2 separate regions of the Homo sapiens genome follow, and region 1 is linked to region 2. The links come from fine-mapping of genetic effects on gene expression. A gene starts in region 2. The other region holds a variant in brackets. All regions are shown on one strand. Distances are between the middles of the regions. Region 1 holds the start of ACER1 (alkaline ceramidase 1). Region 2 holds the start of CLPP (caseinolytic mitochondrial matrix peptidase proteolytic subunit).

The links.
Region 1: its variant is fine-mapped to the expression of CLPP in cerebellum (GTEx, PIP 0.92).

Annotation. Positions count from the first base shown.
Region 1 is chr19:6,331,624-6,347,707 of GRCh38, reverse strand. It overlaps ACER1 (alkaline ceramidase 1), which reads left to right and starts at 14,096. Exons shown (of 6, transcript NM_133492.3): 1 at 14,096-14,249. The coding sequence starts at 14,157. The variant TG/G (reference allele first, on the strand shown) is at 7,542.
Region 2 is chr19:6,353,420-6,366,424 of GRCh38, reverse strand. It overlaps CLPP (caseinolytic mitochondrial matrix peptidase proteolytic subunit), which reads right to left and starts at 4,894. Exons shown (of 6, transcript NM_006012.4): 1 at 4,653-4,894; 2 at 4,485-4,556; 3 at 3,883-3,979; 4 at 1,786-1,973; 5 at 62-167. The coding sequence starts at 4,850. It also overlaps a transcript of ACER1 not described here. RefSeq lists an enhancer at 3,262-4,219 and a silencer at 4,418-4,647.

The DNA.
Region 1 (16,084 bases), 20 kb after region 2:
CCTGCCACCACGCCCGGCTAATTTTTGTATTTTTAGTAGAGACAGGCTTTTGCCATGTTGGTCAGGCTGGTCTTGAACTCCTGACGCCAGGTAATCCACCCACTTCGGCCTCCCAAAGTGCTGGGATAACAGGCGTGAACCACCACGCCCGGCCATCATTTTAACTCCATTACCTTTCTAAAGACCCTGTTTCCACACAGTGGCTCGTACCTATAATCCCAGCACTTTGGGAGGCCATGGTGGGCAGATCACCTAAGCCCAAGAGTTCAAGGCCAGCTTGGGTAACATGGCGAAACCTCATCTCTACAAAAAATTCAGAAACATTAGCTGAGTGTGGTGGTGCACACCTGTCGTCACCACTAACGAGGCTGAGGTGGGAGGATGGCTTGAACCCAGGAGGTTGAGGCTGCAGTGAGCTATGATTGCACCACTGTACTCCAGTCTGGATGACAAAGTGAGATTCTGTCTCAAAAAAAAAAAAAAGAAAAAGAAAAGAAAAGAAAAAGAGACTATTTCCAAGCAAGGTCACATTCTGAGGGACGAGGGGGTCTGTAACTTATCTTTTATTATTATTTTATATATATATATATATATATATTTTTTTTTTTTGTAGAGACAGGGACTCGTGGTGTTGGCCAGGGTGGTCTCAAACTCCTGACCTCAAGCGATACTCCCTCCTTGGCCTCCCAAAGTGCGGAGATTATAGATGTGAGTCACCATGCCCTGTCTGCAACACATCTTTTTAGAGAATACAATTCAAGCCATAACAGTAAGATCCCTCTTTATCTTTCCTTTTTTCCCTCCTCGGTCTCAGCCTTCAAGAAGGAAGGAAAGAAGGGGGTGGGCAGAGAACCTCCTCCCCGCTGGACCAGAGTAATCTCCGCTGTGATGTTGAAGAAAATACATCTGAGTTCTGAGCTAGATGGACAGATTTTAAACCTTTGAACCTTAGAATGGACTGATGGAAAACAGCGGCTGGGGGTGGTGGCTGACCACCAGATGTAGATGGCTGGTGGACAGCCATCTAGAAGCCAAGGAGAGAGGCCCCAGGATTATCCTAGCATTTTGGGAGGCCAAGGTGTGATGATTGCTCCAGCCAGGAGATTGAGGCTGCAGTGAGCTATGATTGCAGCACTGCACTCCAGCCTGGGTGACAGAGCAAGACCCTGTCTCAAAAAAAAAAAAAAAGAAAAGAAAAAAAAGAAGAAGAAGAAGGAGAAGAAGAAGGAGGAGGAAGAGGAGGGGGAGGAGGAGGAGGAGGAGAAAAGAATGAGTGAAATAAAAGGTTAATAACCAATAACCTTAGAATACCCATTTGAGGTTATTGGATTTAGGTAGAGGAGGCAGTAGAAATGACATAATGCCACTTAATGAAAACTTTTCTCGAACTTTTTTTTGGAGGAAGGAATGAGACAGGCTCAGTTGAAGAGATACTTCCAGATTAGAGTCTCCAGATTTAGCACATAAAAATACAGGAGGCTCATTTAAATTTGAATTTCAGATACATGAAGAATAATTTTTAGGATAATCCGATCATATGCAATATTTGGAACATATTTATGCCAAAAACTTATCCATCGTTAATCTGAAATTCTGATTTAACTGGGTGTCCTGTATTTTATCTGGCAACCCTTCTTCTAGTAAGTCATGGAATTAACCCACCTTGGAAGATGATGTGATGGTCAGGCACAGTGGCTCACGCCTGGAATCCCAGCAGCTTGGGAGGCTGAGGTGGGAGGATCACTTGAGCCTGGGTGTTTGAAAGCAGCCTGGGCAATATAGGGAGACCCCATTTCCAATAATAATAATTATTATTATTATTATAATAAAATTAGCTGGATGATGCCAGGCATGGTGGCTCATGCCTGTCATCCCAGCACTTTGGGAGGCCAAGGCAGGTGGATCATCTGAGGTCAGGAGTTGGAGACCAGTCTGGGCAACATGGTAAAACCCTGTCTTTACAAAAAATACAAAAATTAGCTGGGCATGGTCGTGCGCGCCTGTAATCCCAGCGACTCAGGAGGCTGAGGCAAGAGAATCGCTTGAACCCAGGAGGCCGAGATTTCAGTGAGCTGAGATCGTACCACTGCACTCCAGCCTGGGTGACAGAGTGAGACTCCATTTGAAAAAAAAAAAAAAAAAGAATCTAATACCTGATGATCTGTCACTGTCTCCCATCACCCCCAGCTGGGACAGTCTAGTTTCAGGAAAACAAGGGGAGGGCTTTCCCTGATTCTACATTATGTGAGCTGTATAATTAGTTCATTATATATTACAGTGTAATACTAATAGAAATAGTGAACAATAAATGTAATGTGCTTGAATCATCCTGAAACCATTCCACACCTCCGTGATAAAATTGTCTTGCACAAAACTGGTCCTGGGTGACAAAAAGCTTGCAGATTGCTGCATTATAGCATAAAAGTAGCCATAGACAACTTACAAACAAATGGGTGTGACCGTGTGCCAATAAAAATTTATCCACATAACTTCATTTACAAACAACACACGGAGGCCGGGCACGGTGGCTCACGCCTGTAATCCCAGCACTTTGGGTGGCAGAGGCCAGTGGATCACCTGAGGTCAGGAGTTTGAGACCAGCCTTGACCAGCCAGGAGATCAAGACCATCCTGGCCAACGTGGTGAAACCCCGTCTCTACTAAAAATACAAAAAATTAGCCAGGTGTGGTGGCGGGCACCTGTAGTCCCAGATACTTGGAAGGCTGAGGCAGGAGAATGGTGTGAACCCGGGAGGCGGAGGTTGCAGTGAGCCGAGATCGTGCCACTGCACTCCAGCCTGGATGACAGAACGAGACTCCATCTCAAAAAAATAAACAAATAAATAAATAAAATAAAATAAAATAAAATAAAATAAATTGATTGTTGTGAAATATATCTTCACAAGAGGATATATAACATACATATATGGTTTAAAGAAAAAAACAACAAAATAATCCAACAATTGTGCCCCCTTGTATTTACCTAGATGCATTGAAAACTTATACCCACACAGGCCAGGTGCGGTGGCTCACGCTTGTAATCCCAGCACTTTAGGAGGCTGAGGCAGGCGGATCACTTGAGGTCAGGAGTTCAGGACCAGCCTGGCCAACATGGTGAAACCTTGTCTCTACTAAAAATACAATAAATTAGCCAGGTATGGTTGTGGGTGCCTGTAGTCCGAGCTACTAGGGAGGCTGAGGCAGGAGAATCCACTATTTACTTAACGAGTCTTTATTTAATAAATAAATAAATTTATTTATTTATTGAGATGGAGTTTTGCTCTTGTTGCCCAAGATGGAGTGCAATGGCACAATCTTGGCTCACTGCAACCTCTGCCTCCTGGGTTCAAGCGCTTCTCATGCCTCAGCCTCCTGAGTAGCTGGAATTAAAGGTGCCCCACCATGCCTGGCTAATATATATATATTTATATATATATTTTTAGACGGAGTCTCGCTCTGTCGCCCAGGCTGGAGTGCAGTGGCGCAATCTCGGCTCACTGCAAGCTCCACCTCCTGGGTTCGGGCCATTCTCCTGCCTCAGCCTCCCGTCGCCTGGCTAATATTTTGTATTTTTAGTAGAGACAGGGTTTTACTATGTTGACTAGGCTGGTCTCGAACTCCTGACATCAGGTGATCCACCTGTCTTGAGCTCCTGGGATTACAGGCATGAGCTGCCATGCCCGGCCTACTTATCAAGTCTTTAACTCAGGGATGTTTGTGAATAGTTCCATGGTTTTGCTATTGCAGGCAGGGCTGCTCTGAATAATCTTGTACCAGAATCCTGGGTCCATTTGTGGGAGTTTCTCAGGGGGACATAAATCCAGGAGATGAGTTGCTGGTTGTAGGACATGTTCATTTGCACCTTTACTGAATGTGATGGAGGCAGCCTGTTGTGGTTTAAAGATTCAGGCTCCCTTCCCACAGGGTAAAGTGGATACCAGGAAGTGGCTGCTGTGCTACAGATTACATTTCCCAGCAACCCTTTCATCTAGTGGAGGTCATGTGACTAGTTCTGACCAATAGAGGTACACCAAAGCCATGTTGGGATTGAGAGCCACAAGTTGGGAGGAAGCCCACATTTTGTTAGTGGAGGCCACATGTTGAGGTGGGGGCCACATGATGGGTATGGAGGCCACATGTTGGGAGCAAAGGGCACATTTTGGGATTTAGAGCCACAAGTTGGGAGGAAGCCCACATTTTGTGAGTGGAGGCCCCACGTTGAGATGGATGCCACTTGATGGGTATGGAGGCCACATGTTGAAAGTGGAGGCCACATATTGGGAGTGGAGGCCACATGTTGAGATGGAGGTCACGTGTTGGGATGGAGGCCACATGCTGGGATGGAGGCATCATGAGAAGGAAGGAAGGGGCCTGGATTGCTAAATTCCCACTTGCCTGAGCCTTCTGGGACAGCTTCACCCTCCATACTCTTTGCTTATGTGAGATGTAAACTTTTAGGACACTGATATTTGTGGAATTGTCTTGTTCTAACAGTTGAACTACTGTACCCAGTAATGCTTCAGGTAATGTCAAATTATTTTCCAAAGTGGTTGGCCTCTTCATATTTCCACCACTCCCCCACTTCCCATCCTCACCAGTACTCGGAATCGGCAAGTTAAAGAAAAAACTTTTGGCTGGGTGCGGTGACTCACGCCTGTAATCCCAGCACTTTGGGAGGCCAAGGTGGGCGGATCACCTGAGGTCGGGAGTTCGAGACCAGCCTGACCAACATGGAGAAACCCTGTCTCTACTAAAGATACAAAATTAGCCGGGCACAGTGGCGGGTGCCTGTAATCCCAGCTATTCGGGAGGATGAGGCAGGAGAATCACTTGATCTCGGGAGGTGGAGGTTGCAGTGAGCCGAGATCATGCCATTGGACTCCAGCCTGGGCAACAAGAGCAAAACTCCGTCTCAAAACAAACAAACCCACAACTTTTTATCTTGAAATAGTTTGTTTTTATTTTATTGTATTTATTTATTTATTTTTTTGAGATTGAGTCTTGCTCTGTTGCTCAGACTGGAGTGCAGTGGCACGATCTTGGCTCACTGCAAGCTCCACCTCCTGGGTTCACGCCATTCTCCTGCCTCAGCCTCCTGAGTAACTGGGACTACAGGCGCCCGCCACCACGCCTGGCTAATTTTTTGTATTTTTAGTAGAGACGGGGTTTCACCATGTTAGCCAGGATGGTCTCAATCTCCTGACCTCGTGATCCGCCCGCCTCAGCCTCCCAAAGTGCTGGGATTACAGGTGTGAGCCACCACTCCCGGTCTGAAATAGTTTGTTTTTAAAATGGATTATTATTATTTTTTTTTAGAGACACAGTCTGCCTATGTTGCCCAGGCTGGTCTCGAACTCAAACAGAAATTGCAGTGAGCCAAGATCAAGCCACTGCACTCCAGCCTGGGCAACAGAGTGAAACTCCATCTTAAAAAAAAAAAAAAAAAAAAAGAACTAGGATACTCTCTTACACAACCAGAATTCATTTATCTACTTCAGAAAATAAATATGGACACAATACTATTATCTACTTTATATTCCATGTGCAAATTTCACCAATTACCCAATAATGTCCTTTGTGACTTTGGGCATTGTTAGACTAAAATTTTCCCCATCTGTACGGTAACCATTATTGACTTAAACACTGTCTTTAAACAAGTTCATTTTCCAAAAACACTTTCCAAATATTAATGCATATCTTTACTTCAAAAGGAAATTTTATATTGCTCCACTACATGGAAAGCTACTAAATAAATAGAAAGCAAGTATTAAAACCAACACTGCTGGGTGCAGTGGCTCACGCCTGTAATCCTAGCACTTTGGGAGGCCAAGGCAGGCAGATTATGAGGTCAGGAGTTCAAGACCAGCCTGGCCAACCTGGTGAAACCCGCGTCTCTACTAAAAATAAAAAAAATTAGCCGGGCATGGTGGCGGGTGCCTGTAATCCCAGCTATTTGGGAGGCTGGGGTAGGAGAATCGCTTGAACCCAGTAGTCAGAGGTTGTGGTGAGTGGAGGCTGCTGCACCATTGTACTCCAGCCTAGGTGACAGAGCAAGACTCCATCTCAAAACAAAAAGAAAAACAAAACAAAACAAAACAAAAGAAAACAAAAAAAAGCCCAATGCTAAGATGGGTATAGTTCCTTTTTTCTTTTTCTTTTTCTTTTTTTTTCTTTTTTTTTTTTTTGAGACAAGGTCTTGCTCTGTGGCCCAGGTTGGAGTGCAGTGGTGCACACATAGCTCACTGCAACTTCGACCTTTAGGCTCAAGCAATCTTCCCATCTCAGCTTCCTGAGAAGTTAAGACCACACGTGTGTACCCCCACTGGCTAACTTTTTAATGTTTTGTAGAAACAGGGTCCCCTATGTTGCCTAGACTGGTTTTTTGTTGTTGTTTTTTTTGAGATGGAGTCTCGCTCTGTTGCCCAGGCTGGTTTGCAGTGGCGAAATCTTGGCTCACTGCAACCTCCACCTCCTGGGTTCAAGCGATTCTCCTGCCACAAGAATTGCTTGAACCCTGGAGGTGGAGGTTACAGTGAGCCGAGATCGCGCCAGTGCACTCCAGCCTGGGCAACAGAGCAAGACTCCGTCTCAAAAGAAAAGAACAAAGTCAGAGAGAGACTGGAAGAGGCTGCACTGTGGCTGTGAAGGTGGAGAACAGGACATGGGTTGCCTCTAGACACTGGACGGGGCAGGAAACGAGGTCTCTCCTGGAGCCTCCACCAGGAACACAGCTGTGATGACACCTTTAGCCTATAAGACTCATTTCAGAGTCCTGACCTGTAGAAAGGTAAGATGATAAGTGTGTGCTGTTCTAAGCCATTACATTGGTGGCATTTGTTACAATAACCGCTGAGAGCTCACACGCCTCTGTTTGTCACCCTCTCTCTAGCCCCTTCTCTCCCCCTAGCGGGGGAAGAGCTCTCCCCCGGCTCCCACCCACCTTCCTGGCTGCTCTGTCCTCCCTAGTCAGCACCATGATCACTCAAGTTCTCCGGTCTGGGCTGGGCGTGGGTGCCAGTCACTACCTTACTGCCTGCTATTAAACCCTCGCCAAGATTCAGGATCTCAGCAGCTGGGTCCTGTTCCAGCTATGAGCAGAAAGGGGCCTCAGAGACCATCTGCTCCACCCACACACAGAGCAGAGACTGTTTCAAAATTACTCCATGGGGAAGGAGTCAGGGTCGCTACTGGGGAGCTGGGGTGGCAGTGGTGGTGTCTGTTTGCCCTCCTGGTCCACCTGGGAAGCGGATTTGGGGGCTAGGGCTGTAGCTAAATGGTGTATGTTTGTGGAGGGGTGCTATACAGAGTCAGGTCAAGCTTTAGTTCTGTTTTTCTTCCTTCCTTCCTTCCTTCCTTCCTTCCTTCCTTCCTTCCTTCCTTCCTTCCTTCCTTCCTTCCTTCCTTCCTTCCTTCCTTCTTTCTTTTTTTGGAGACAGAGTCTTGCTCTATGCCCAGGCTGGAGTGTAGTGGCGCGATCTTGGCTGACTACAACCTCCACCTCCCAGGCTCAAGTGATTCTCGTACCTCAGCCTCCCGAGTAGC[TG/G]GGATTACAGGCACGCACCACCACGCCTGGCTAATTTTATTTTTTTTATTTTTAGTAGAGACGGTGTCTCACCATGTTGGCCAGGCTGGTCTTGAACCCTGACCTCAAGTGATCCACCTGCCTCAGTCTCCCAAAATGCTGGGATTACATGTGTGAGCCACCACGCCCAGCCCCAAACCCCTCTTTTAAAAACCTAAATCAGGCCAGGCGTGGTGGCTCACGCCTGTAATCCCAGCACTTTAGGAGGCTGAGGCGGGCGGATCATGAGGTCAGGAGATCAAGACCATCCTGGCTAACACGGTGAAACCCCGTCTCTACTAAAAATACAAAAAAAACTTAGCCGGGTGTGGTGGCGGGCGCCTGTAGTCCCATCGGGAGGCTGAGGCAGGAGAATGGCGTGAACCCGGGAGGCGGAGCTTGCAGTGAGCCGAGATCGCACCACTGCACTCCAGCCTGGGCAACAGAGAGAGACTCCATCTCAAAAAACAAAAAACAAAAACAAAAACCCTAAATCATTACTTTGTAAAATTGTGGTAAAAGATACATAACACGAAACTGATCATTTTAATCATCAAATGCATAGTTCAGCGGCATTAAGCACATTCGCATGTCTATGCAGCCATCACCACCATCCCCTCCAGAACTTTCTCATCTTTCCAAACTGAAACTCTGTCCCCAAGAAACACTCACTCCCTATCCCCCTCCCCAGCCCCTCATACCCCCCGTTCTACTTCCTGTCTCTGTGACTCTGAGGACTTTGGGGACCTCCTAGGAGTGGGATCACACAGGATTTGTCCTTTTATGTCTGGCTTATTTCACCCAGCTTGATGTCCTCAAAGTCCATCCACGTTGTTGCCTGTATCAGAATTTCCTTCCTTTTTCAGGGCTGAATAATATTCCACGGTATGGATGAACCACACACATTGTGTTTATCCATTCATGTATTAATTAAAAATCTAAATCAATCCCTTTATAAAAAGAGATTTTTAGGCTGGGTGCGGTGGCTCATGCCTGTAATCTCAGCACTTTGGGAGGCTGAGGCAGGCGGATCACCTGAGGTCAGGAGTTCCAAACCAGCCTGGCTAACATGCTGAAACCCCATCTCTACTAAAAATGTAAAAATTAGCCCGACGTGGTGGTGGGCGCCTGTAATCCCAGCTATCGGGAGGCTGAAGCAGGAGAATCATTTGAACCCAGGAGGCGGAGGTTGCAGTGAGCCGAGATTGCACCATTGCACTCTAGCCTGGATGACAGGAAGAGACTCGGTCTTAAAAAAAAAAAAAGATTTTAAGGCCAGGTGCGGTGGCTCACACATGTAATTCTAGCACTTTGGGAGGCTGAGGTGGAAGGATCGCTTGAGCTCGGGAATTAGAGAGCAGTCTGGGAGACATAGTGAGAACCTGTCTCTACAAAAAATAGAAAAAATTTGCCTGGCCTGTAGTCCCAGCTACTTGGGAGGCTAAGGTGTGAGGATCACTTGAGCCCAGGAGGTTGAGGCTGCAGTGGCCTGTGATTGCACCACTGCACTCAAGCCTGGCAGCAGAGTGAGACCCTCTATCAAACACATTAAAAAAAATGGAATAATTATAAACTTGCAGGAACCTGCAATAATAATATAGAAGAATCCCAGGTAATCTTCATCCAGTTTCTCCCAGTGGTACCTCTTTTATAACTATACATTTTCACAACCAGAAAGGTGATATAAATATGACCTATAGACCATATTCAGATTTCAACAGCTTTTCCCATGCATTCATGTGTTAGACAATTTTCTTTTCATTTTCTCAGAAAAATGGGAGCAAATCTATGCAATAATATCACATGTATAGATCTGTGCAAACACAACCACAATTGTAACACTTACATTTATTTTGGCCAGGGCACAGTAGCTCATACCTGTACTCCCAGCAACTTGGGAGGCGAAGGTGAGAAGATTGCTTGAGCCCAGGAAATTGACATTGCTGTGAGCTAGGATTTTACCACTGCCCTCCAGCCTAGGAAACGGAGCAAGACTCCATCTCTTAAAAAATACATATTTATTTTATTATTTTATTTTTATTTTATTTAATTAACTATTTTTTTTTGAGACAGGGTTTCCCTCTTTTTGCCCAGGTTAGAGTGCAGCGGTGGAATTAGAGGTGTAAGCCACTGCACTGGGCCAAAATATTATTTTAAAAAGAAAATTCTGGGGCTGGGCGCGGTGGCTCACGCCTGTAGTCCCAGCACTTTGGGAGGCCGAGGTGGGTGGATCACGAGGTCGGGAGATCGAGACCATCCTGGCTAACATGGTGAAACCCTGTCCCTACTAAAAATACAAAAAAATTAGCCAGGCGTTGGTGGTGGGTGCCTGCAGTCCCAGCTACTCGGGAGGCTGAGGCAGGAGAATGGCATGAACCCAGGAGGCGGAGCTTGCAGTGAGCCAAGATCGAGCCACTGCACTCCAGCCTGGGCGACAGAGCAAGACTCCATCTCAAAAAAAAAAAAAAAAAAAAAAAAAAAAAAAAGAAAGAAAGAAAGAAAAGAAAAGAAAAAGAAAAAGAAAACTTTGGCCAGGCAGGGTGGTCCACGCCTGTAATCCCAGCTACTCAGAAGGCTCAGGCAAGAGAATCGTTTGAACCTGGGAGGTGGAGGTTGCAGTGAGCCGAGATCATGCCATTGCACTCCAGCCTGGGGGACAGAGCAAACGCCATCTCAAAAAAAAAAAGAAAAAAAAAGGAAACTTTGTAACCCTACCGTGAATGGAAAGTAGATTTGGCTTACCATGAATACAAGCTTATCAAAAAATAAATACAATGTAAACAAATCATGTTACTAAATTCTAACAGAATATTGTTGCCTAATGAAGGGCTTTTCTTTTCTTTTTTGTCAAAGTCATTAAGTGTTAAGAGACATAGAACATATTAGCACTGACTGAGCCTCTCTTCTCCAAATATTGGAAATTGAAAAAGTTGATTACTTTCAGACACCACAGTGATTTTTTTTTTTTTTTTGAGAGGGAGTCTCACCCTGTCGCCCAGGCTGGAGTGCAGTGGTGCAATCTCGGCTCACTGCAACCTCCGTTTTCTGGGTTCAAGCTATTCTCCTGCCTCAGTCTCCTGAGTAGCTGAGATTACAGGCGCGTGCCACCACACCAGGCTAATTTTTGTATTTTTAGTAGAGACGGGGTTTCACCATTTTGGCCAGGCTAGTCTTGAACTCCTGACCTCAAGTGCTCCACCTGCCTCAGCCTCCCAGAGTGCTGGGATTACAGGGGTGAGCCACCATGCCCGGCCAGTTCAGTGATTTGGAATGCAGGGCAACATAGCACCACAATTTATCTTTCTTTTTCTTTTTTTTTTTTTTTTTTGAGTCGGGGTCTCGATCTGTCGCCCGGGCTGAAGTGCAGTGGCGTGATCTCGGCTCACTACTACCTCCACCTCCCAGGTTCAAGCGATTTTCCTGCCTCAGCCTCCCAAGTAGCTGGGACTACAGGCGCCCGCCACCATGCCTGGCTAGGTTTTTATATTTTTAGTAGAGACGGGGTTTCACCATGTTAACCAGGATGGTCTTGATCTCCTGACCTCGTGATCCGCCTGCCTTGGCTTCCTAAAGTGCTGGGATTACAGGCATGAGCCACCGTGCCCAGCCCACAATTTATCTTTTTATGGAAACATCGTGTCAGCTCACTAACTCTTCACAACAGGCTTGAGAGGGCAGTACCATTATCATTTTCACCACCTTACAGGTGAGGAAACTGAGGCATCATAGAGGTGGTGTTCCTTGCCTGTCTCTATCACTTCCTAACTGTGTGACCTATGGTAAGTTCCTTAACTTCTCTGGGCTTTAGTTTCCTTGCTAGTGATTACTAGCAGGAGATAGGATCGCATGAGCTCAGGAGATCAAGCAAGGCTGCATTGAACTATGATTGCGCCACTGCACTCCAGCTTGGGCAACAGAGCAAGACCCTGTCTCAAAAGAGAAAAAGAGGCCAGGCACAGTGGCTCAAGCCTGTAATCCCAGCACTTTGGGAAGCCGAGACAGGTGGATCACCAGAAGTCACGAGTTCGAGACTAGCCTGGCCAACATGGTGAAACCCCGTCTCTACTAAAAATACAAAAATTAGCCGGGCATGCTGGCGGGTGCCTGTAAATCCAGCTACTTGGGAGGCTGAGGCAGGGGAATCGCTGGAACCTGGGAGGCAGAGGTTGCAGTGAGCTGAGATCATGCCATTGCACTCCAGCCTGGGTGACAAGAGTGAAACTCTATTTCAAAAAAAAAAAGAAAAGAAAAAGAAAAAAAAGAAAAAGAAAAGGGATAACAATAGTTCCTGGCGCTTAGGATTTTTTCTTTTTTTTTTAGACAGAGTCTTTCTCTGTCACCCAGGCTGGAGTGCAGTGGTGCAATTTTGGCTCGCTGCAAGCTCCGTCTCCTGGGTTCATGCCATTCTCCTGCCTCAGCCTCCTGAGTAGCTGGGACTATGGGCACCCACCATCACGCCCAGCTACCTTTTTTGTATTTTTAGTAGAAATGGGGTTTCACTGTGTTAGCCAGGATGGTCTCAATCTCCTGACCTTGTGATCCTCCCGCCTTGGTCTCCCAAAGCACTAGGATTACAGGCGTGAGCCACAGCACCCGGGGTAGGATTGTTAAGAACATTAAATGAAGGCCGGGCACAGTGGCTCACGCCTGTAATCCCAGCACTTTGGGAAGTCGAGACGGGCAGATCACAAGGTCAGGAGTTTGAGGCCAGCCTGGTCAATATGGTGAAACCCCGTCTCTACTAAAAATACAAAAATTAGCTGGGCATGGTGGCAGGTGCCTGTAGTCCCAGTTACTCAGGAGGCTGAGGCAGGAGAATTGCTTGAACTAGGGAGGTGGAGGTTGCAGTGAGCCAAGATCATGCCACTGCACTCCAGCCTGGGAGACAGAGTGAGGCTCCATCTCAAAAAAAAAAAAAAAAAAGAACGTTAAATGAGATAATACTGAAAATCAAGCACTTAAAAAAAGAAAAATTATATAATATATAATATTAATTATTATATTAAATTATATTAATCACATTAAAATAATATACTAAAATATTTAAAATATTATATAACAATAGTATTTTTAATATAATAATTTTATATTTTAATATAATATTGCTATTATATAATAAATAATTATATTATTATTGTTATGCACACTTGCTAACCGCTTGCTAAGGCCAGGCTCTTTTATTATAATAATAATAATTATTATTATTCCCACAAAGTTGACTTAAAGTTCAAGGTCAGCTTCAGTAAGAAAACCCTGTAATCCCAGCACTTTGGGACAGAGCAAGACTCCATCTCAAAAAAAAAAAGAAAACCCATTACCATCCATCAAGTGCCTACTCTAGCATAGGCAGTGGGCTAAGCCTTTGTACATGCTTTATCTCTGTCTTCCTTTGTTACAGTTGGCTCTGTCACCATCGTCTCCATATGACAGGTGAGCAAACAGAGGATCAGAGAGGTAAATTCACTTGCCCAAGGTCACACAGCTTAAAGTAGAGGAACTCAGGCCAGGTGAGGTGGCTCATGCGTATAATCCCGGCACCTTGGGAGGCCAAGGTGGGCAGATCACCTGAGGTCAGGAGTTCGAGACCAGCTTGACCAACATGGTGAAATCCTATCTCTACTAAAATACAAAAAAAATTAGCTGGGCATGGTGGCAGGTGCCAGTCATCCCAGCTACTTGGGAGGCTGAGGTAGGAGAATCGCTTGAACCCAGGAGGTGGAGGTTGCAGTGAGCTGACATTGCGCCACTACACTCCAGCCTGGGTGACAGAGCCAGACTGCATCTCAATTTTAAAAAAAAAGGCCGGGCACGGTGGCTCACGCACACCTATAATCCCAGCACTTTGGGAGGCCAAGGCAGGTGGATCACGAGGTCAGGAGATCGAGACCATCCTGGCTAACACAGTGAAACTCCATCTCTATTAAAAATACAAAAAATTAGCCGGTCGTGGCGGTGGGCGCCTGTAGTCCCAGCTACTCGGGAGGCTGAGGCGGGAGAATGGCGTGAACACGGGAGGCAGAGCTTGCAGTGAGCTGAGATCATGCCACTGCACTCCAGCCTGGGCAACAGAGCGACTCTGTCTCCAAAAAAAAAAACAATTAGCTAGGCATGGTGGCAGCATGTGCCTGTGGTCCTGGCTACTTCAGAGGCTGAGGCAGGAGTATTGCTTGAGCCTGGGAGTTTGAGGCTGCGGTGAGCTATGATGATGCCACTGTACCCCAGCCTGAGCAACAGAGCAAGGCCCTGACTCTAATAAATAAATACATACATACATAAAAGATAAAAACAGTTCCCTCCACTGCCCCCACCCCGATTCCTATTCCTGGGTAATCTGGATGGGAGGCCTCTTCCCTGCCTACTTCTGCCCCCTGCCCTGCCTGGACAGTGCCAGTCCCACGGCTTATGCTCAGGGCTGCTGTCACTGCACAGCCAGGCTGCCCTGGTGCAACTGGGGAGCGGCCCAGCAGGTTTTTCCTCCCAGTCTGCCTGCCGCGGGGCACCGGGCTGTCCTCTCCCCGCCTCATCAGGGCCCAGCCTTCCCAAGCTCGCCTTCTCTCTGCCGGGCGCAGCCGGCTGGTGGTGGCCACTGAGACAAGATGCCTAGCATCTTCGCCTATCAGAGCTCCGAGGTGGACTGGTGTGAGAGCAACTTCCAGTACTCGGAGCTGGTGGCCGAGTTCTACAACACGGTGAGTGCGTGGGTGTGTGAAGGAGTCTCGCCAGATGCCGGTTCGAATCCCGGTTCCTCCCCATACAGCCTTACTGGGGAATCTTGCTGGAGTGGTTCACCTGTCTCAGCCCTAGTTTTCTCATCTGTTAGCCAAAGAGTGCCAGCTTTCATTCATTTACTTGTCTTTACTTGATGCCAAGCTCTGTGGTAGGTTTTGGAGACACATTGGTGGCCAGGAAAAGAACCGGTCTCTGCCTTCCCTAAGCTAACTCTGATGTGACTGCAGGCATTTGCAACCGGGAGCGATGGTGCCTTCTTGGAGGGCACAGAGGCAGCTGTGGTAGGGGGAGGCAGAGGGTGCCCCTGAGCTAGAGGGGGTGGGCCAATCAGGAAAGGCTTCCTGGAAGAGGTGATTGTGTCTGTCTTGTTTGCAGCTGTACCCACTGACCAACTTGTCCCAGTGTGCCTGGGACTATCCTGGTTTCAGTATTTAAAAAGTTTCACCTCTTGGCTGGGCGCGGTGGCTCACGTCTGTAATCCTAGCACTTTGGAAGGCCAAGGTGGGTGGATTGCCTGAGCTCAGGAGTTGGAGATCGCCCTGGGCAACGTGGTGAAAGCCCATCTCTACTAAAATAAAAAATTAGCTGGGTACGGTGTCAGGCATCTGTAGTCCAAGCTACTCAGGAGGCTACGGCATGAGAATCGCTTGAACCCAGGAGGCGGAGGTTGCAGTGAGCTGAGATTGTGCCACTGCACTCCAGCCTGGGTGAAAAAGCGAGACTGTCTCAAAAAAAGAAGAAAAAAAGTCCCACCTCCTGAGAAACTCCTCAGTTCTGGACATTCTGAGGTGGTCTTCTCTTTCCCTGTTAAAACACCACATGGGAAGTGCTAAAAAATCATGGATGTACCTAGCACCATGGCTCATGCCTGTAACCCCAGCAATTTGGAACGCAGAGGCAGGAAGATCGCTTGAGCCCAGGAGTTCCAGACCAGCCTGGGCAACATAGCAAGACCCTGTCTCTACAAAAAGTTTTTAAAAATTAGCTGGGTGTGGTGGTGTGTGCTTGTAGTTCCAGCTACTTGGGAGGCTGAGGGGGGAGGATTTCTTGAACCCAAGAAGTGGAGGATGCAGTGAGCTGAGGTCATACCACTGCACTCCAGCCTGGGTGACAGAGGGAGACCCTGTCTCAAAAAAAAAAAAAAAAAAAAAAGGCCGGGCGCGGAGGCTCACGCCTGTAATCACAGCACTTTGCGAGGCCAAGGTGAGTGGATCACCTGAGGTCAGGAGTTCGAGACCAGCCTGGCCAACATGGTGAAACCCCATCTCTACTAAAAATACAAAAATTAGCCAGGTTTGGTGGCAGGCACCTGTAATCCCAGCTGCTTGGGAGGCTGAGGCAAGAGAATGGCTTGAACCCAGGAGGCGGAGGTTTCAATGAGCCGAGATCGCACCATTGCACTCCAGCCTGAGGGACAAGAGCGAGACTTCGTCTCAAAAAAAAAAAAAAAAATAGGAATGCACAAATGATCACGGCATTTAGCCAAAGCTTAAAGCCAAAGATCAGTGCAGCTATGCCATGCCCATACTGGGTGCTGGGAACACAGAGGTGTTTGCCTGGAGCCCTGGGAATGATGGGATCCAGGCATAGTGCTTAGTTCTTTTGTTTGTTTGTTTGTTTGTTTTGAAACGGAGTCTCGCTTTGTCACCTAGGCTGGAATGTAATGGCGCGATCTCGGCTCACTGCAACCTCTGCCTCCCGCGTTCAAGCCATTCTGCTGCCTCAGCTTCCCGAGTAGTTGGGATAACAGGTTCCCACCACCACGCCTGGCTAATTTTTGTATTTTTAGTAGAGA
Region 2 (13,005 bases):
CTTAGAGCAACGCCTGGTCCGTCTGTGCACGGACCAGGATGAAATAAAGGAGGGTGCTTACCGATCACCTGCAGGCTCTGTTTGGTGTGCTTGGCGTAGATGTTATAGAGCTGCTTCTTGAGCTTCATGATCTCCTCTGCCTGGATGGCAATGTCTGTGGCTTGGCCCTGAGGGACGTCCAAGGGAGTGAGGGGGTAAAGGTTGGTATCGGCGTCAGCCCCTCACAGGGAGGCTGGAGGTGGCACTCAGGAGCTTCCCTGGGCTTTGGGCTTCCGGTTTGAGGCTGGTGGGCTGGGGTTGTGTAAATCCCCCGATATCCTGCTTCAGTCTTGCCACTACCAGGAAGGCTTTCTGACTGGATTAAGTATATGTTATTTTCTGCATCTGAAGCCTTGCAGACTGGGAGGAACAGTGTCTCTCTGTCTCAGCATTAGCTAAGCCTTTTTTTTGTTTGTTTTTTGTTTTTTTTTTTTAGAGATGGGGTCTTGCTATGTTGCCCAGACTGGTCTCAAACTCCCGGCCTCAAGTGATCCTCCTGTCTCGGCCTCCCAAAGTGCTGGGATTACAGGCATGAGCCACCATGCCTGGCCGCCTTTTTTTTTTTTTGAGACAGGGTCTTCCTCTGTTGCTGGGGCTGGAATGCAGTGGTACAAGACAGCTCATTGCAGCCTTCACCTCACAGGCTCAAGCAATCCTCCCACCTCAGCCTCCTGAGTAGCTGGGACCAGAGGCAAGCATAACCATGCCCGAGTCATTTTAAATATTTGGTAGAGATGGGGTCTCACCATTGCCCAGGCTGGTCTTAAACTCTTGGCCTCAAGTGATCCTCCTGCCTTGGCCTCCCAAAGTGCTGGGATTACAGATGTGAGCCACTGTGCCCAGCTGAAGCTAATTCTCAAGAGACAGCAAACAACTCCTCAGTGCATTTTCTTTTTTTCCCTTTGTTGTTTTGAGACAGAGTCTTGCTCTGTCATCCAGGCTTGAGTGCAGTGGCGCAATCTCAGCTCACTTCCACCTCCTGGGTTCAAGTGATTCTCCTATCTCAGCCTCCCAAAACAGCTGGGATTATGGGCACGCACCACCATGCCCAGCTAATTTTTGTATTTTTAGTAGAGACGGGGTTTCATCATGTTGGCCAGGCTGGTTTAGAATTCCTGACCTCAAATGATCCACCTGCTCCAGCTTCCCAAAGTGTCAAGATTTACAGGCGTGAGCCACCATGCCTGGCCTTTTTTTTTTTTTTCTTTAATAGAGACAAGGTCTCATTATGTTCCCCTGGCTGGCCTCGAACTCCTGAGCTCACGTGATCCTCCCGCCTCTGTCTCCCGAAGTGCTAGGATTACAGGCGTGAGCCACCACACCCAGCCTGGCCTGCACATTTTAAGACATCCACTCCCGGCTGGCCCAGCGCGGTGGCTCACGCCTGTAATTCCAGCACTTTGGGAGGCCAATGTGGGCGGATCACGAGGTCAGGAGATCGAGACCATCCTGGCTAACATGGTGAAACCCCGTCTCCACTAAAAATACAAAAAGCCGAGCGTGGTGGCGGGCGCCTGTAGTCCCAGCTACTCAGGAGGCTCAGGCAGAAGAATGGCGTGAACCCAGGAGGCGGAGCTTGCAGTGAGCCGAGATCGCACCACTGCACTCCAGCCTGGGCGACAAAGTGAGACTCCATCTCAAAAAAAAAAAAAAACATCCCCTCCCACGCTTGACTTCCGCCCAGTCAGTCCTTCTGTCTAGACCCTGTCCTGATTCCCAACAGCAGCTCGCGTGTCTGGCACTCACCCGGGCGCCTCCTGAGGGCTGGTGGATCATGATACGGGAGTTGGGGAGCGAGTGGCGCATGCCTGGGGTGCCGGCGGCGAGAAGCAGGGAGCCCATGCTGGCGGCCTGGCCCACGCACCAGGTGCAGATCGGGTTGAGGATGTACTGCATCGTGTCGTAGATGGCCAGGCCCGCGGTCACCACACCACCTGTGGGCGGGGGAGCAAGTGAGGGGCTGGACCAGCTCCCCCCGACCCTTTCCCTATTCCATCTCCTAAACCTGGGGAGGGTGGAACAGATGCAGCCCCCCTCCTTTTTTAAAAATTAATATGACTGGGCGCTGTGGCTCATGCCTGCAATCCCAGCACTTTGGGAGGCTGAGGCAGGCGGATCACAAGGTCAGGAAATCAAGACCATCCTGGCTAACACAGTGAAACCCCGTCTCTACTAAATATACAAAAAATTAGCCGGGCGTGGTGGCGGGTGCCTGTAGTCCCAGCTATTCCGGAGGCTGAGGCAGCAGAATGGCGTGAACCCGGGAGGCGGAGGTTGCAGTGAGCCGAGATAGCGCCACCGCACTCCAGCCTGGGCGACAGAACGAGACTCCATCTCAAAAAAAAAAAAAAAAAATTAAGACTGGGTTTCACTGCTTTCACTATGTTGCCCAGGCTGATCTCGAACTCCTGGGCTCAAGCAATCCTCCCAAAGTGTTGGGATTACACGTGTGAGCCACCATGCCCAGCCAGAAGCAGCTATTTTTTTTTTTTTGAGACTGAGTCTCACTGTCACGTAGGCTGGAGTGCAGTAGCGCGATCTCAGCTCACTGCAACCTCCACCTCCCGGGTTTATGCAATTCTCCTGCCTCAGCCTCCCGAGTAGCTGGATTACAAGTACACCACCATGCCCGGCTAATTTTTGTATTTTTAGTAGAGATGGGATTTCACCACGTTGGCCAGGCTGCTCTCAAACTCCTGACCTCAAGTGATCAGCCCACTTCAGCCTCCCAAAGTGCTGGAATGACAAGCGTAAGCCACTGCGTCCGGTCTAGAAGCAGCTCTTTAAAGCAGGGTTCACAAACACAAATGCTTCCAGGGGTTGGGAGGTGACAAAAACAAGTGACACGGCCCAGGTGCAGGCAAAAGGCAGAGCGCTTGCTTTACAGTCAGCTGACTCTTGCCAGATGTGCCAGTGGACCATGGGATCAGATCTACTAAATTTCCAAGAGAAACTAGAAATCAGGCCAGGCGTGGTGGCTCATGCCTGTAATCCCAGCACTTTGGGAGGCTGAGGCGGGTGGATCACTTGAGGTCAGGAGTTCAAGACCAGCCTAACATGGTGAAACATCATCTCTACGAAATACAAAAAATTAGACAGGCATGGTGGCACATGCCTGTAATCCCCAGCTACTTGAGAGGCTGAAGCTGGAGAATCGCTTGAACCCAAGGAGGCAGAGGTTGCAGTGAGCTGAGATTGCAACACTGCACTCCAGCCTGGGTGACAGAACGAGACTCCATCTCAATAAAAAAAAAAAAAAATGCCTCCATCATAAGTGCTCAATCAAAATTGACTACTTTTTTTGGGGAGGGGGAAAAAATCTACCAATTATGATTATTTTTGAGATGGGCTCACTACAGCCTCGACCTCCTGGGCTCAAGTGATCCTTCTCCCTCAGCCTTCCGAGTTGCTGGGACTACAGGCACACGCCACATTGCCCGGCTAATCTTTGTACTTTTTTTGTAGAGATGGGGTCTCACTACGTTACCCAGGCTGGTCTTGAACTCCTGAGCTCGAGCAATCCGCCCGCCTCAGCCTCCCAAAGTGTTGGGATTACCGGTGTGAGCCACTGTGCCCGGCCTAAAATCTACCAATTTTTAAATGTCAGCCGGGTCAGGTTGGCAGAACAGTATGTGCAGGATCAAAGAGGCCACATCCTGACTTGTGAACCGAGGCTCAAAAGCCAGCAACAGGCACCTTTTGGTGGTTTAAAGCCACTTCTGGAACTCTGACGCTCTGCACCCTTTCCCAGAGAGAGAACATCCCTGACCCGGGATTCTGGTCCCCTGAGTCACCCGTGTGCCCTGACGAGTGCCCCTGGCACCCAGGAAAGACCCTGCTCACCAGGGCTGTTGATGTACATGTGGATGGGCTTCTTGTTGCTCTCGGATTGCAGGAAGAGGAGCTGTGCGATAACAAGGCTGGCAACGCTGTCATCGATCTGCAGGTGGAGAGGGCAGGGGTGTCCCCAGATTCGGGGTGGGGAGAGAGTTTTAAGGGAGGCTGGGGATGGGTCAGGGAACCAGGAAGGGGGACCAGAGCCCAAAGTAAAAGGGATGGGGAAGAATTTAGGCCCCAGAAGGGGATGGGGAGAGAGTAGTGGAGAGGACCCAGGGGGTTTGGAGCACAGGAAGGGGGGAGTCAGGGGGCTAGGGACACAGGAAAGGAAGGGGTGAGAATGGCTGGGGAGAGTCTTGAGCGTAGGAATGAGGGGAGCGGTGCCAGGTGTCAGGAAGGAAGTCGGAGATTAAGAGCCGAGGAGCAGAGAAGGGGTGAGGAGCGGGTTGGGGGACCGGGAGCCAGGAGGGGAGTCAGAAGGGGAGGGAAGGGGGTTAGAAGGGGAGCGGAGCCTGAGGGAAAGTCTGGGGCCAGGGAAGGAGGGGCGCAGGGAGTGTCGGCAGGCGCTTGGGAGAGTCCTGGGGAGGGTCCCGGCGCGGGGCGCTCACCGGGCCCATGACGCACACGATGCGCTCCCGCAGCAGCCGCGAGTAGATGTCATAGGCGCGCTCGCCGCGACCCTGGGGGTAGAAAGATGGAGGTGAGGGGCCGGGGCAGCCAGCCGATCCCCACCCAGCCCGGAGCCCCCGAACCGTGTCCCCGCCCGGCCGCCGTACCGTCTGCTCCACCACGATGGGAATGAGCGGGAGAGCCCGGGTCGCCGTCGCGTGCAGGCACCGCTGCAGGGCCAGGCCGTTCTGGAGTGTCCGCTGCGGCGGCCGCTGCGCTGGAAAGTGAGCGGCGAGGCGAGGCCCCAGCGCGGGGTACCTGCATGACGCCACCCGGGCCCCCCCTACCAATATTCCGGGCCACATCCCTCCGCACGCCCCGGTCGGCTTCCGTCCGATGGCGGAACTACAGCTTCCGGCGTGCTTTGCGCCTGGGAGCTCGCTCGCTAGGCCGCTCACTTCCAGGAGTCTGGGCGGGCGCCATTAAGGGTGAGGCGGGGATAGGGACGGAGCCTGAAAGGGAGGAGCCAATGAAGTAAATTGAGTGGGCAGGGCTGGAGAAGTTTTAGAGTCTCCAGTTCGAGTCCCCTTACCGACCAATTCGTCTTCTTTTTTTTTTTTTTTTGAGACGGAGTCTTGCTCTGTCACCCAGGCTGGAGTGCGGTGGCACGATGTTGGGTCACTGCAACCTCTGCCTTCTGGGTTCAAGCCATTCTCCTGGCTCAGCTGCCCCAGTAGCTGGGATTACAGATGCACACCACTGCACCCGGTTAATTTTGTTATTTTTAGTAGAGATGGGTTTCACCTTGGCCAGGCTGGTCTTGAACTCCTGACCTCGTGATCTTCCCACCTCGGCCTCCCAAAGTACTGGGATTACAGGCGTGAGCCACCGCGCCCGGCCTCGTCTTCGTTTTCTACTGTTTCTGCTTTATTTATTTTTATTTTTTTGAGACAGAATCTCACTCTGTGGCCCAGGCTGGAGTGCAGTGGCGCCATCCTAGCTCAATGTGGCCTCAAATTTCTGGGCCCAAGCAACCCTCCCTCCCACCTTGCTCTCCAGAGTAGCTGGGACTACAGTTGTGTGCTACCACATCTGGCAAATATATATATATATGTATTAGAGATGGGGTCTTACTATGTCGCCCAGGCTGGTCTCAAACTCCTGGCCTCAAGTGATCCTCCCACCTTTGCCTCCCAAAGTGCTGGGACTACAGGCATGAGCCACCACACCCCACTTATTCCTTATTTTAAAAATAGCTGCAGGGCCGGGCACAGTGGCTCACGCCTGTAATCTTAGCACTTTGGGAGGCTGAGGTGGGCGGATCACGAGGTCAGGAGATCGAAACCATCCTGGCTAACACGGTGAAACCGCGTCTCTACTAAAAATACAAAAAATTAGCCGGGCGAGGTGACGGGCACCTGTAGTCCCAGCTACTCAGGAGACTGAGGCAGGAAAATGGTGTGAACCTGGGAGGTGGAGCTTGCAGTGAGCTGAGATGGCGCCTCTGCACTCCAGCCTGGGCGACAGAGCCAGACACCGTCTCAAAAAAAAAAAAAAAAGCTGCAGTGTTCCCACAGCTCATCTTGGAAGAGGGGTCCCAGAGAGGACTTAGCCTGGGTCTTGGCCTTGAAGAGCTTCCAGCCTGGTGTGGCCGACTTCTACTGAGACCTCCTCATTCATTTTTTGGCCACCTGTGGAGTAGATTGTGGGAGCCCAGAGAAGGGTGTTGTGGATTCTTCCTGGAGATCAGACCGGAAAGCATTCCTAGGAGAAGCAGGTATTGGAATTGGGCTTTGCAGGATAAGTAGGAGTTTGTTAGCTGGGGAAAGGCATTTCCAGCAGAGGAAAAAGAATGGGCAAAATGGTGGAAGTAGGAAGATTGCTGGTAATGTTGGGACTTCTCTTTTTTGCCACACCTTCTCAAGCCAGATTCTTTTTCATCATTCAGTTCAATGTCACTATCTAAGAGGTGCCCACTGCTTCATCCCCAAAGTCTAGAATAGTGCCTGACACACAGTAGGTGCTCATTAAATACACATTGAACCAAGAGATGAAGAGGTGATAAAGGAGGTAGGTAGAGGGCTTTGGAGGCATCTGCAGAGTGGGGATAATGATAACCTACCTCCTAGGTTTGTGCAGAAAGTCCTCAGAAAGGGTCCAAAAATGTGTAAAAAGTGCTCAGTTTGAATGATTTATTGCTGTGTTAGATCAGGGACCATGGAAGTCTGAGAAGTCTTCAGGTCCTCCCACATGGGAGTCTACTTGAAGTGTTTTTTTCTTTTTTTTCCCGGGGCAGTCCTTCGAATCACAGCAGATTCAGGCGAGGTGTTGTGGTGGCTCATGCCTGCAATCCCAGCACTTTGGGAGCCCAAGACATGTGGATCACCTAAGGACAGGGGTTTGAGACCAGCCTGACCAACACAGTGAAACTCCGTCTCTATTAAAAATACAAAATTATCTCGGCATGGTGGTGAATGCCTGTAATCCCAGCTACTTGGGAGGCTGAGTCAGGAGAATCACTTGAACCCAGGAGGCAGAGGTTGCAGAGAGCCGAGATCACACCACTGTACTCCAGCCTGGGCAACAAGAGCAAAACTCTATCTCAAAAAAAAAAAAAAAATCACAGCAGATTCAGAGAGACTCCTGAAGTGGATTTTGATGTATAAGAAGTTTACCAAGCAGTAAGCGGTAGACTCTTTTTTTGTTTTGAGTCAGTGTCTCGCTCTGTCACCCAGGCTGGAGCACAGTGGTGTGATCAGAGCTCACTGCAGCCTTGAACCTCTGGGCTCAAGCTATCCTCTCACCTCAGCCTCCCAAGTAGCTAGGACTAGAGGTGCATGTCACCACATCTGGCTAATTTTAAAATTTTTTGTAGAGACAGGGTCTCCCTATGTTGCCCAGGCTGGTCTTGAACTCCTGGACTTAAGTGATCCTCCTGCCTCAGCCTTCCAAACTGCTGAGACATGAACCATCATGCCCAGCTGGACTCTTTTTTTTTTTTTTTTTGAGACAGAGTTTTGCTCTTGTTGCCCAGGCTGGAGTGCAATGGCACAATCTCGGCTCACCACAACCTCCGCCTCCCAGGTTCAAGCAATTCTTCTGCCTTAGCCTCCCGAGTAGCTGGGATTACAGGCGCCCACCACCACGCCCAGCTAATTTTGTATTTTAAGTAGAGACGGGGTTTCTCCATGTTGGTCAGGCTAGTCTCGAACTCGCGACCTCAGGTGATCCACCCGCCTCAGCCTCCCAAAGTGCTGGGATTACAGGCGTGAGCCACTGCGCCCGGCCACTGGACTCTTTTTTTTTTTTTTTTGAGATGGAGTCTCGCTCTGTCGCCCAGGCTGGAGTGCAGTGGTGCGGTCTCGGCTCACTGCAAGCTCCGCCTCCCAGGTTCACGCCATTCTCCTGCCTCGGCCTCCCAAGTAGCTGGGACACTGGACTCTTAAACTTGATGCTGGGTACCCTAGATAAGAATAATTTTGTGCCCTCTGTAACCTCGAGGGGACTGCAGTCCGATGGGGAGATAGAAGGGGACACAGACACTCCCAGTTTTGTAGAATCAGGAGTAAGACAGAGGGAGGGAGTTGAAGGTGACAGAGTTAGGAGAATACCTTGCAGGTCCGCAAAGCAGAAAGCCCACATGGCAGCCAGCGCTGGCAGGCAGGGCCTCACGGTGGAAAGCCGGCATTTGGGCTCAGAGGGTGTTGGCCAGAGGTCTGGAATCTTACTTTTATTTCCAGCTGGGATTGAGGAGGTAGGAGGGCAGCTGCTGTCCCAGTTTCTGCTGTGAGTCAGGTGGGTGGCCCTGCCCGGCCGGTTGCCCCAGGGCTGCAGCTCCTGCCCCCGCCCTGGGGAGAAGGGCCAGGACAACAGCTGCCACCATCCCTGCAGCCACTCCTCCACTCCTCCACTCCTTCACTCCTCCGGACGCTGCCCTGCACCCCCTGCCTGCCCTGCCTCTGACGTGGGATGGCGGGGTCCTCTTAGATGTGTTCCCTGTCTCCCTTTGTTTAATCAGCTTCACTTCTCCCCATTGCAACTGCTTTTCACCTTCTTCATTGTTAATAGCTCCCTAACAGGTGCTCCAGTATCACCCACGTCACTGTGACCTACTGTCTCTTCTTCACTATTCTTCACTCTAAGAGATCCCCAAAAAAGCTAATTTTTTTTTTTTTTTGAGACGGGGTCTCACTCTGTCATCCAGGCTGGAGTGCAGTGAAGCGATCTCGGCTCACTGAAGCCTCTGCCTCTCCGGTTCAAGCGATTCTCGGGCCTCGACCTCCTGAGTAGCTGGCACCCACCATCACGCCCAGATAAGTTTTGTATTTTTAGTAGAGATGGGGTTTCACCATGTTGGCCAGGCTGGTCTCGAACTCCTGACCTCAAATGATCCATGTGCGTCAGCCTCCCAAAGTCCTCAGATTACAGGTGTGAACCACCGCGCTTGGCTGAGAAACCTAAATTGAACTGCGGTTCCCCGTCCCCCCTGCTGACCCCCCTTATCTCCTTCCCTACCCTGGTCTGCTTTTCACACCCCAAACACATCAAGCTCAATCCAGCCACAAAGCCTCTGCTTTACTCTGCTTGGAGTCAAGCCAGGCAGAGTGGCTCACGGCCGTAATCCCAGTACTTTGGGAGGCGGAGGCGGGCGGCTCACCTGAGGTCAGGAGTTCAAGACCAGCCTGACCAACGTGGTGAAACCCCGTCTCAACTAAAAATACAAAAATTAGCCAGGCATGGTGGCCTGCGCCTGTAGTCCCAGCTACTTGGGAGAGACTGAGGCAGGAGAATCGCTTGAACCCGGGAGGCAGAAGTTGCAGTGAGCCAAGATTACACCATTGCACTCCAGCCTGGGCGACAGAGCGAGACTCCATCTCAAAAAAAAAAAAAAAAAAAAGTCTCAGCTCAGATGTCATCCCTGAGAGAAGCCTTCCCTGAACACCTTTGCTAATATCCCAGGCACTCTAGAACATTTGCCTTGTTTAATTTTCATCTTGGTGTGACTTTCATCATAAACAATTGCATTAATTCATTTGTTTCTTTTTCTATTGTCTGCAGAACATTCTGCTATCTTGTTTGGCTCTGGTGCATAGCTCACTGCAGCCTCATACTTCTGGACTCAGGTGAATCCTCCCAACCTCAGTCTACCAAGTAGCTGGGACCACAGGCACACGCCAACAGGACCTGCTAATGTTTTTAAAGTTTTTTTTTTTTTTTACATGCAGTATGATTTATTTTATATAATGTTCAAAAGCTTGCAAAAACAGCATATTGTTTACAGATGCATATTTTGGAGGTAAAATTATGAAGAAAAGCGAGATCATTATAAACAAAATTTAGGAGGGGGCTGGGATGGAGAAGGGCATGCAAAAGGGCTTTAACGGTGTTGGTTGTAATCTGTATCTTAAACTGGGTATGGGTAGTAGGGTGTCCAGTCTATTTATTTATTTATTTATTTTATTTATTTTTTTATTGATCATTCTTGGGTGTTTCTCGCAGAGGGGGATTTGGCAGGGTCATAGGACAATAGTGGAGGGAGGGTCAGCAGATAAACAAGTGAACAAGGGTCTCTGGTTTTCCTAGGCAGAGGACCCTGCGGCCTTCCGCAGTGTTTGTGTCCCTGGGTACTTGAGATTAGGGAGTGGTGATGACTCTTAACCAGCATGCTGCCTTCAAGCATCTGTTTAACAAAGCACATCTTGCACCGCCCTTAATCCATTTAACCCTGAGTGGACACAGCACATGTTTCAGAGAGCACAGGGTTGGGGGTAAGGTCACCGATCAACAGGATCCCAAGGCAGAAGAATTTTTCTTAGTACAGAACAAAATGAAAAGTCTCCCGTGTCTACCTCTTTCTACACAGACATGGCAACCATCCGATTTCTCAATCCTTTCCCCGCCTTTCCCCCCTTTCTATTCCACCAAACCGCCATTGTCATCATGGCCCGTTCTCAATGAGCTATTGGGTACACCTCCCAGACGGGGTGGTGGCTGGGCAGAGGGGCTCCTCACTTCCCAGTAGGGGTGGCCGGGCAGAGGCGCCCCTCACCTCCCGGACCGAGGCGGCTGGCCGGGCGGGGGGCTGACCCCCCCACCTCCCTCCCGGATGGAGCGGCTGGCCGGGCGGGGGGCTGAACCCCCCACCTCCCTCCCGGACGGGGCGGCTGGCCGGGTGGGGGGCTGACCCCCCCACCTCCCTCCTGGACGGGGCGGCTGGCCGGGCAGAGGGGCTCCTCACTTCCCAGTAGGGGTGGCCGGGCAGAGGCGCCCCTCACCTCCCGGACGGGGCGGCTGGCCGGGCGGGGGGCTGACCCCCCCCACCTCCCTCCCGGACGGGGCGGCTGGCCTGGCGGGGCTGACCCCCACCTCCCTCCCGGGTGGGGTGGCTGTCGGGCAGAGACGCTCCTCATTTCCCAGACGGGGTGGCTGCTGGGCAGAGGGGCTCCTCACTTCTCATATGGGGCGGTTGCCAGGCGGAGGGTCTCCTCACTTCTCAGACGGGGCGGCTGGGCAGAGACGCTCCTCACCTCCCAGATGGGGTCGCGGCCGGGAAGAGGCGCTCCTCACTTCCTAGATGGGGTGGTGGCCAGGCAGAGACGCTCCTCACTTTCCAGACTGGGTAGCCAGGCAGAGGGGCTCCTCACGTCCCAGACGATGGGCGGCCAGGCAGAGACGCTCCTCACTTCCCAGACAGGGTGGCGGCCGGGCAGAGGCTGCAATCTCGGCACTTTGGGAGGCCAAGGCAGGCGGCTGGGAGGTGGAGGTTGTAGCAAGCCGAGATCACGCCACTGCACTCCAGCCTGGGCACCATTGAGCACTGAGTGAACCAGACTCCGTCTGCAATCCCGGCACCTCTGGAGGCCGAGGCTGGCGGATCACTCGCACTTAGGAGCTGGAGACCAGCCCGGCCAACACAGCGAAACCCCGTCTCCACCAAAAAAATACGAAAACCAGTCAGGCGTGGTGGCGCGCGCCTGCAATCACAGGCACTCGGCAGGCTGAGGCAGGAGAATCAGGCAGGGAGGCTGCAGTGAGCCGAGATGGCAGCAGTACAGTCCAGCTTCGGCTCGGCATCAGTGGGAGACCGTGGAAAGAGAGGGAGAGGGAGACCGTGGGGAAAGGGAGAGGGGGGAGAGGGAGAGGGAGAGGGAGTGACACTTCTCCTGTTTTTAAAGTTTTTGTTGTAGAGACAAGGTATCGATATGTTGCTGAGGCTGGTCTCAAATTCCTGAGCTTGAGCAATCCTCCTGCCTTGGCCTCCCAAAGTGCTGGGATTACAGGCGTGAGCCACTGCACTCAGCCCATTAAACCTTTTTGATTAGGGCTCACAAGGAGAAACATATCTTACATAGTGTCTGAGTACACAAAAATACAAAAGTCTTATAAAATGAAACTTATTATTTGAGCAATGTCCTTTGATATTTTCTATTCTATTTGATCCTGTTCTATTGCATTTCACTTAAAGTAGGGTTTTTCAACTTTGGCACGATTGAAAATCTGAGTTGGAGAATTCTTTGAAAGTACAAAAGGCCACCCAGGCCACTGTAGGGTGCTGAGCAGCATCTCTGGCCTCCACCCACTCGATAACAGGAGCACCCCCACCCCTACCCCCATCAATTAAAAAAAATGCCCCCCTAACAGTAAAAAGTATCTCAGACATTGCCAAGTATCCTCCAGGGGGCAGAGTCGCTCCCAGCTGAGAATCACTATTTATTTATTTATTTACTTATTTATTTTATTTTATTTTATTTTATTTTTGAGATGGTCTCTTGCTCTGTTGTCCAGGCTGGGGTGCAGTGGTGTGATCTTGGCTCACTGCAGCCTCCACCTCCTGGGTTCAAGTGATTCTCCTGCCTCAAACTCCTGAGTAGCTGGGACTACAGGCATGAACCACCATGCCTGGCTAATTTTTGTATTTTTAGTAGAGATGGGGTTCCACCGTGTTGGCCAGGCTGGTCTCAAACTCCTGACCTCAGGTGATTTGCCCACCTCGGCCTCCCAAAGTGCTGAGATTACAGGTGTGAGCCATCACAGCTGGCCTGAGAACCACTGTTTTATTTTATTTTATTTATTTTATTTTATTTTATTATTTTATTGTATTTATTTTATTTTATGAGATGGGGTTTCGCTCTTGTTGCCTAGGCCGGAGTGCAATGGTGTGATCTGAGCTCACTGCCACCTCTCCCTTGCAGGTTCAAGCAATTCTCCTGCCTCAGCCTCCCAAGTAGCTGGGATTACATGCACGTGCCACCACGCCAGGCTAATTTTGTATTTTTAGTAGAGATGGGGTTTCAGCATGTTGGTCAAGCTGGTCTTGAACTCCTGACCTCAGGTGATCCACCTGCCTCTGCCTCCCAAAGTGCTGGGATTACAGGTGTGAGCCACCATGCCCAGCCAAGAACCACGACTTAAAGTGGATAGTGATCTGAAATAGAAGAAAAACAACTTTATTTATTTATTTTTATTTTGTAGAGGCAGAGTCTCACTATGCTGTCCAGGCTGGTTTCAAATTCCTGGAGT